2 separate regions of the Homo sapiens genome follow, and region 2 is linked to region 1. Evidence: fine-mapped expression QTL. A gene starts in region 1. The other region holds a variant in brackets. All regions are shown on one strand. Distances are between the middles of the regions.

Region 1 (4,197 bases):
GATCCCAGGGCGTGGAACCCCCTGGGGCTGCAGTGGGGATGTCTAGGTCCTCAGCTTAGGGAGGTCCAGGAAGTGGAGAGGGCTGGGGTGCAGAGCTGGCCTGCCCAGGCTTGTGGGGAGGCAGTAGAGATGTCCACAGGCAGATCTGGGAAGGGTCCCCCAGGGCTCCCCTGACTTGGGCCCCAGGTCCCCCGACAGAACAGTCTGCTCACTCGCCCTCTCCCTGGGCAGCTGTTGGGCTCCTCTGGTCCTGGCCCTAGCCTCAGAGGTAGCAAGTGTACAGGTGCCCTGGGGCGGAGCTGGCTTAGCCTCAAGGGGTCCTTGGAAGAGGGGTCCCTATGCCTCCGCCCCCTCCTGGTTGGGCTTAGACCCCTGCGCTGCTCAGAAAACCACAGAGGAGCCTGCAGAGGGGGCTGGTTTTGTTCTGTGTCACTGGGCCAGCTGTGGATCCTGCCCTGTCTGCTGATAGCTGGGGTGGGGCTTTTTAGGGATTCAGCAGTATCGGGGGTCTCTTGAGGGTGTGGAAGCTGTGAGGTATGTGGGTTGGGACAAGCCCCAGACCCTTGGCCTGTGTGGGTCCAGGCGTCCCGGTACAGGAAGAGAACACAGGGGCTTTGGCAGGTGGAGTGGCCCAGGAGTCCCCAGCCAGTATCATTGTTCTGCCCCCTCAGGACACCTGGCTCCCTGGAAAAGGCTCAGAGGCAGCCAGCTGGGGTCTCTCCTGGTCTGGGCATGGCACTAACCTCCCTCCTCCAGAGGGGGCATTCTGCCCCACCTTCTCCCCCAACCCCACCGCCAGGCTTTCATCTGCGCCTTCCTGTCTGGAATGCTCTTTCCCCCAAAGGTGTATGTCAAAGATCACCATCTCCAGGAGGCCCTACCCCGGCTGGCTCACCGTGACCCCATCTGCTTTGTTTGTGGGTTGGGGTTGGGAGAGTTTACGCCAGGCTCCCCAAGCTGGGCCCCATCCCTACGCATGGACCCCCACAACACTGGCACAGTTCACCGAAGGCGCCCCCGCCGGGAAGCGTCCCAGCTGCACCGGCCACTTCAGCAAGCCCCGGCCCGGGTCCCCAGCACACAGGGAAACTGAGGCCCTGCTAAGCGGGCAGGGGGTGGAGGCGAGGCCTGAGAAGGCCTCTTGGAAGCCTCAGCAGGGTCTAGGGGCAGAGACTTCCCCAGGAGCCCACCGTCAGCCCCTCACTACCGGATCCAAGCCAGATCCCAGAGTCAGGGACCCTCTCTGGGAGGGTCGCGCGCGTCACTGCCGACGTCATCGAGCGTCCGGGCCGAGCCGAACCGCGCCCCCTCCCCCCAAATCGCAGAGCGGAGAACAGCGGGCGGGGTCTCCGGGAGGGTCGGGCCCAGCCGAGACCTCTGTGCGGTGGGAGGCCCGGCCCGCGCCCCGGGGCCCCCGCCGCCCGCGCCGCCCGCGCCCCCCGCGCCGCCCGCGCCCCCCGCGCCCCCCGCGCCGCCCCCGCCCCCCGCGCCCCCCGCGCCCCCCGCGCCGTACCTCGCCCGTAGCCCAGGCGCTGGCGCAGCGCGCGTCCCTGGCGCACCAGGCCCAGGTGCACGTAGGTGAGCCACGCGGCGCAGCTCAGCAGCAGCAGCAGCAGCAGCAGCTTCATCTGCTTACGGATCTTCTTCACCGGGAGCCGCGGCATCGCGGCCGCCGCGCCCGCCCCAGGCCGCGCTCAGCGGCGCCGCTGCAGCCCCCGGCCCCCGCCCGCCCCGCGCCGCATCCCCGGCCCGCCCCGCCGCGCTCAGCGCCCGCGGCCCCGCATGGTCCTTTGTCCGCCGTGCGCGGCCACCGGGTGCGGCCGCGACCCCCCCAGGCCGCCCTCGGCCGCGGGCCCGGGGTGGGCGGCGGGGGCGGCTCCTCGCGGTGCCCCCCGCCCGGCCGCTCCCGGCTCCGCGCTCCTGGGGCGGCGGCGGGACCGAACAGCATCCACGGCTGCCACCGCGGATCGGGCCCCGGCCGCGCGCGCGGAACCAATCGGACCGAGCCAGGCCGCGGGGAGCCAATGGCGGCGCGCGGGGAGGGGTGCGGGGCGCGGGAAGGCGGGGCGGGGCGCGGGGTGCGGGGCGGAGGAGGCGGGGCGAGGGGAGGCGGGGCGGGGCGGGGGGTGCGGAGGGTGCGGGGCGGGGGGTGAGGGGTGCGGGACGGACAGGGATGCGGGGCGCGGGGCGCGCGTCCACCTGGGCCACGGAGCGCGGGGGCGCGGCACACAGACGCGGGGCTGGGAAGCGCTGGGGCTCGGGGACCGTGGGGGGCGGCGGGGGATGGGCACAGCCTGACTGTGGGGCGGGGCGGCCTCCCGAGAACAGTGACCCGAAGGACTGCAGGCGGACAACACGGAGGAGGGAGGGGAGGGACCCGGGGTCCTGGGGGGCGGGGAATGGGGGCGGGCGAGAGAGGCCGGGGGGCGGGGGGGCCCAAGCACCGGCTTCAGCCCAGGGGTGGGAGTCGTTGCGGGATCTCAGCCTGCAGGGCTGGGGCCGCAGGGGGCCGAGCTGTCTGGGCGGCAGGAGGGGCCTCAGCTGGTGGCCCCCGCCCCACCGAGCGCGGCCTGAGGCAGGTGACAGTGTCGTGCCTCTCACCGGGACCTTGTCCCACTTCGTGCCCTTTCTCACCTGGTCTGCACCAACCCCTGCCAGTCCCTCTGTCCCCCCAGTACTTCCCTTGTCCAGCTGCCAGCGTGACCCTACTCTTCTCCCTCTGTCTGCTCAGCTGTCTCTGGGTGTGTAGCAAACCGCCCAGCTTCAGTGCTGTCCAACAGCAGCGTTCCTGTGTTCCTGTGTCCTGTGGGTCAGGAACTCAGGGCACTCGGGGACAGCTCCTCTCTGCTCCTCGAGGTGCTGGCCTCCGGTGGGAAGACGTGAGTGGTGGGGCCGGCTCCGCGGGACAGGCTGGAGCCATCCAGAGACTTCTGCCCCAAGCCAGTGCACCCTCGGCAGGAATGGCTGGGCTCACCCCGGGTGGTTGGCCAGAGCGCCTGCAGGCTCAGCTGCCAGGGGCAGCCTCCCGGTCCAGCACACAGAGTGAAGCATCTTGGAGTCACCCCTCAGGTTTGCCACATGCCGCACGGCCACCCAAGTTCGTGGGTTGTGGGGACGTGGACCCCACCTCACAATGGAAGATTGCCCAGAAGTTGCCTTCTTAAGACCTCAACTCCTTCCCTCCTTCCCCTCCATCCTCCTCCCCTAACTTCTGAGCACAGAAGCAAGCTGGTTACATCCTGCTGTTCATACCGGCCCTTAAACAACACCCGGTCTCTCAAACCTTCCCCCACCCCATCAGCTCCTCATCTCCTGCCTCCTGCAGTCCACTTTTCATATTTCTGTTATCTGCATATTCATTAAAATATAGTGCCCCACCCCTTTTTGAGACAGGGTCTCACTGTGTCTCTGAGGCTAGAGTGCAGTGGTGCAATCTCAGCTCACAGCAGCCTTGACCTCCTGGGCTCAAGCGATCCTCCCACTTCAGGTTCTTGAGGAGCTGGGACTACAGGCATGCATCACCATGCCGGACTAATTTTTTGTATTTTTTTTTTTAACAGATTCAGGGTCTCACCATGTGTCCCGGGCTGGCGTTGAACTCCTGGGCTCAAGTGATCCTCCCGCCTTGGCCTCCCAAAGTGCTGGGATTCCAGGCGTGAGCCACTGTGCCCGGCCAGTGGTGCTCTTTTATGTGTCTCATTCTGTTTCTCCAAGTCCCATATTTTCTATGTGCATCTGTCTGGCTGTGCGTCTAATGCTTTCCCTCTTTCCACTGCATGGCACCCCATCCTAGGCACATTCATCCAGCCAGTGGACGCTACCTAGTATTCTAGTGTCCTGACGAGCCAGGGACTTAGGGGACACAGCAGTGAGCAAGACAGAAAAGGGCCCTCCTTTCATGGAGTTTACATGTTACTAGGCAGGGACAGACCAGTGAACGCATAGTCGCTTTGCTGGTGGTGAGTGACGTGAAGGAGATGAGCTGGGTGATGGAGGGAGGCCGGCTCCCGCTCCAGGGTCGCTCTCTGGGGAGGCAACGGCTGGCCTGACCCGTAAACAGGTTCTTAGAAGGCAAGTGTTGGCAATGTCGGGAGAGACGTGTTTGGGACACTTCATGGGTCCACAGTCAGAGGGTGTCCCCTGTGGATCCAAAGCATAGTAGGTACAATTGAGGGGCGAGCTGGGATCTGCCGGACG
Region 2 (4,197 bases), 110 kb before region 1:
CCGTGCACTGTTTACACTCGCCTGCGCAGTGAGCACACGCGCCCGTGCAGTTTACACGCCTGCGCACACGGTGAGCACACGCGCCCGTGCACTGTTTACACTCGCCTGCGCACACGGTGAGCACACGCGCCTGTGCAGTTTACACTCGCCTGCACAGTGAGCACACACACCCGTGCACTGTTTACACTCGCCTGCGCACACGGTGAGCACACACGCGTCCGTGCACTGTTTACGGTCGCCTGCACACACACAGCACACATGCCCATGCACTGTTTACAGACGCCTGCGCAGTGAGCACACACGCGCTCGTGCACTTACACTCGCCTGCGCACACAGTGAGCACACACGCGCCCGTGCACTGTTTAAACTCGCCTGCGCAGTGAGCACACACGCGCCCGTGCAGTTTACACTCGCCTGCGCACAGTGAGCACACACGCGCCTGTGCAGTTTACACTCGCCTGCGCAGTGAGCACACACGCCCGTGCACTTACACTCGCCTGCGCACACAGTGAGCACACGCGCCCGTGCACTGTTTACACTCGCCTGTGCACAGTAAGCACACGTGCCCGTGCAGTTTACACTCGCCTGCGCACACAGTGAGCACACACGCGCCCGTGCACTGTTTACGCTCGCCTGCGCAGTGAGCACACGTGCCCGTGCAGTTTACGCTCGCCTGCGCACACAGTGAGCACACACGCGCCCGTGCAGTTTACACTCGCCTGCGCAGTGAGCACACACACGCCCGTGCACTGTTTACAGACGCCTGCGCACAGTGAGCACACGCACCCGTGCACTGTTTACACTCGCCTGCGCACACGGTGAGCACACGCGCCCGTGCAGTTTACACTCGCCTGCGCACAGCACACACACCCGTGCACTTACACTCGCCTGCGCACACGGTGAGCACACGCATCCGTGCACTGTTTACGCTCGCCTGCACACACACAGCACACACGCCCGTGCAGTTTACAGACGCCTGTGCACACAGTGAGCACACATGCCCATGCACTGTTTACAGATGCCTGCGCAGTGAGCACACACGCCCATGCACTATTTACAGATGCCTGCGCAGTGAGCACACACGCGCCCGTGCACTGTTTACACTCTCCTGCGCACACAGCACACACGCACCCCTGCACTGGCTGTGTTTACAGACGCCTGCACACACAGTGAGTGCACACATGCCCGTCCTCTGTGAGCTATGGCACCCAGGACCACGCAGCCCACCCAACACCCAGGCCTCAGTTCCTAATATTCAGTAAGGACCCAAGGCTCTTGGAGAAGGGGCTGATTCCAGGACCAGGGTGGGGAGTGGACAGGAGGAGCCTGGAGCATCCCGCAGTGCTAGGAAGTCAGGATGTCCTCAGAAAAACAAAACGAAAAGCCAAGAACTCCGTGAGGGTGTGTGAAAGCAATACAGGAACCACGTGGAAATTCCTTTTGGCAAAAGAATTTGGGCACCACGATAAATAGAGCAGCGCTGAAATAAATATGCAAGTGTAAGACAAGTATCTGTACGTCCACACTGATATAAATAAATACATGATGGAATAACTAATGGTAGAGAAGCAGGATCTCTCCCATGCACAAGAATTCCTGGCAACGTGCAGACGCCACACACCAAGGGGGGCAACGAAACTCCCCTCCCTCCATGCAGGCTGCACCAGTGACCTCCTTGTGGAGAATGCACTATGGATTGACAGTGGAAAGCCTGACAGACACATCTCGCCAGGCAGTCAAGGTCCACAGCGCCAGGGATACGTCATGGTGATGGTGCCAGTGCGCGCCTTCACCCCAGACAAATACTGAGAAAACGTCAGACATCCTCACAAACCCTGGTGCCAAAGCCAGAACAAGACATTCCAGGAAAATTAAAGGACAGTACCTCTTACAAATATGGATGCAAAAATCTTAGATAAAATGCTAGGAAAGCAAGTCCAGCAGTATGTAAAAAGGCACACCCTGGGACCCAGCAGGATTTATCCCAGGAATGTAAGGTTGGTTCAGGATAAGAAAATCAATCAATGTAATTCATCATATTAACAAAGGGGGAAAA[AC/C]ACCCATATGATCATCTCACTTGATGCGAAAAATCATTTAACAAAAATCTAACAACTTTTCATGATAAAAACACTCAACCAACTAGGAATATACTAGAACTTTCTCCACTCAGTAAGGGAGATCTACGAAAAACTCACAGAACCTTCTCCCCTCAGTAGGGAGATCTACGAAAAACTCACAGAACCTTCTCCACTCGGTAGGGAGATCTACGAAAAACTCACAGAACTTTCTGCACTCGGTAGGGAGATCTACGAAAAACTCACAGAACCTTCTCCACTCGGTAGGGAGATCTACGAAAAACTCACAGAACCTTCTCCACTCGGTAGGGAGATCTACGAAAAACTCACAGAACCTTCTCCACTCGGTAGGGAGATCTACGAAAAACTCACAGAACCTTCTCCACTCGGTAGGGAGATCTACGAAAAACTCACAGAACCTTCTCCACTCGGTAGGGAGATCTACGAAAAACTCACAGAACCTTCTCCACTCGGTAGGGAGATCTACGAAAAACTCACAGAACCTTCTCCACTCGGTAGGGAGATCTACGAAAAACTCACAGAACCTTCTCCACTCGGTAGGGAGATCTACGAAAAACTCACAGAACTTTCTGCACTCGGTAGGGAGATCTACGAAAAACTCACAGAACCTTCTCCACTCGGTAGGGAGATCTACGAAAAACTCACAGAACTTTCTGCACTCGGTAGGGAGATCTACGAAAAACTCACAGAAACTTCTCCACTCGGTAGGGAGATCTACGAAAAACTCACAGAACCTTCTCCACTCGGTAGGGAGATCTACGAAAAACTCACAGAACTTTCTGCACTCGGTAGGGAGATCTACAAAAAACTCACAGAACTTTCTCCACTCGGTAAGGAGATCTATGAAAAACTCACAGCTAACACACTCAGTGGGATAAAGACTGGATGCTTTTCCCCTAAGATCAGGAATCAGATAAGAATGTCCATCTGGCCAGGCACAGTGGCTCATGCTTATACTCCCAGCACTTTGGGAGGCCAAAGGGGTCAGACCGCTTGAGCTCAGGAGTTTGAGACCAGCCTGGCCAACATGGCGAAACCTCATCTCCACAGAAAGTTAAAAAATTAGTCAGGTGCGGTGGCTCACTTGAGACCAGGAGTTCTGAGACCAGCCTGGCCAACACGGTGAAACCCCGACTCTACTAAAAATACAAAATTAGTCGGGTGTGGTAGCATGTTCCTGTAATCCCAGCTACTACGGAGGGTGAGGCACGAGAATCGCTAGAACCTGGGAGGCGGAGCTTGCAGTAAGCCAAGATCGTGCCACTGCACTCCAGCCTGGGCGACAGAGCAAGACTCCGTCTCAAAAAAAAAAAAAAAAAGCCCATCCTTGCCTATTCTAGGAAACATTGAGCTGGAGGTTCTGGGCAGGGCAGCTACGCAAAGAAGTAAAAGACATCGGCCGGGCACGGTGGCTCATGCCCATAATCCCAGCACTTTGGGAGGCCAAGGTGGGCGGATCACCTGAGGTCAGGAGTTCAAGACCAGCCTCAACATGGAGAAACCCTGTCTCTACTAAAAATTAAAAAAAAAAAATTAGCTGGGCATGGTGGTGCATGCCTGTAATCCCAGCTACTCGGGAGGCTGAGGCAGGGGAATTGCTTGAACCTGGGAGGCGGAGGTTGCGGTGAGCCAAGATCACACCACTGCACTCCAGCCTGGGCAACAAGAGCAAAACTCAGTCTAAAAAAAAAAAAAAGAAAAGAAATAAAAGACATCTAGATTGGAAAGGAACAGGTAAAACTATCTCTATTTGTAGATGACATAATCTTGAATATAGAATATTCTTAAGAGTCTACCCCAAAACACCACAACTATTAGAGCTAATCAGTTCAGCACGGTTGCAGGACGCAAGATCAGTACACAAAAATGAGCTACATTTCCATACATGAGTAACGAGCAATGCAAAAGTAAAATTAAAACAGTTCCACTTACAAGAGCACACAATGAACAAAATAATTGGAGTAAATGTAATAAAGGAAGTACAAAACTTAAACTCTGAAAACTGTAACACATTGTTGGAAGAAATTAAAGACCTAAATAAATGGAAAGCCATCCCATCTTCAAGGACTGACGGAGTTAATATTGTCAGGATGACACTACT

What was found. PIP is the estimated chance that this variant, and not a neighbour inherited with it, causes the effect. A credible set is the group of variants that fine-mapping cannot tell apart.
Region 2: its variant is the best candidate, but not a certain one, in a credible set for the expression of B4GALNT4 in whole blood (TOPMed, PIP 0.74).

What each region holds. Positions count from the first base shown.
Region 1 is chr11:367,271-371,467 of GRCh38, reverse strand. It overlaps B4GALNT4 (beta-1,4-N-acetyl-galactosaminyltransferase 4), which reads right to left and starts at 1,969. Exons shown (of 20, transcript NM_178537.5): 1 at 1,514-1,969. The coding sequence starts at 1,664. RefSeq lists an enhancer at 2,898-3,436.
Region 2 is chr11:481,442-485,638 of GRCh38, reverse strand. All of the region lies in intron 4 of PTDSS2 (phosphatidylserine synthase 2), which reads right to left. Among named protein-coding and RNA genes, the nearest start is that of RNH1, 24 kb to the left of the region's middle. RefSeq lists an enhancer at 781-1,302. The variant AC/C (reference allele first, on the strand shown) is at 2,057.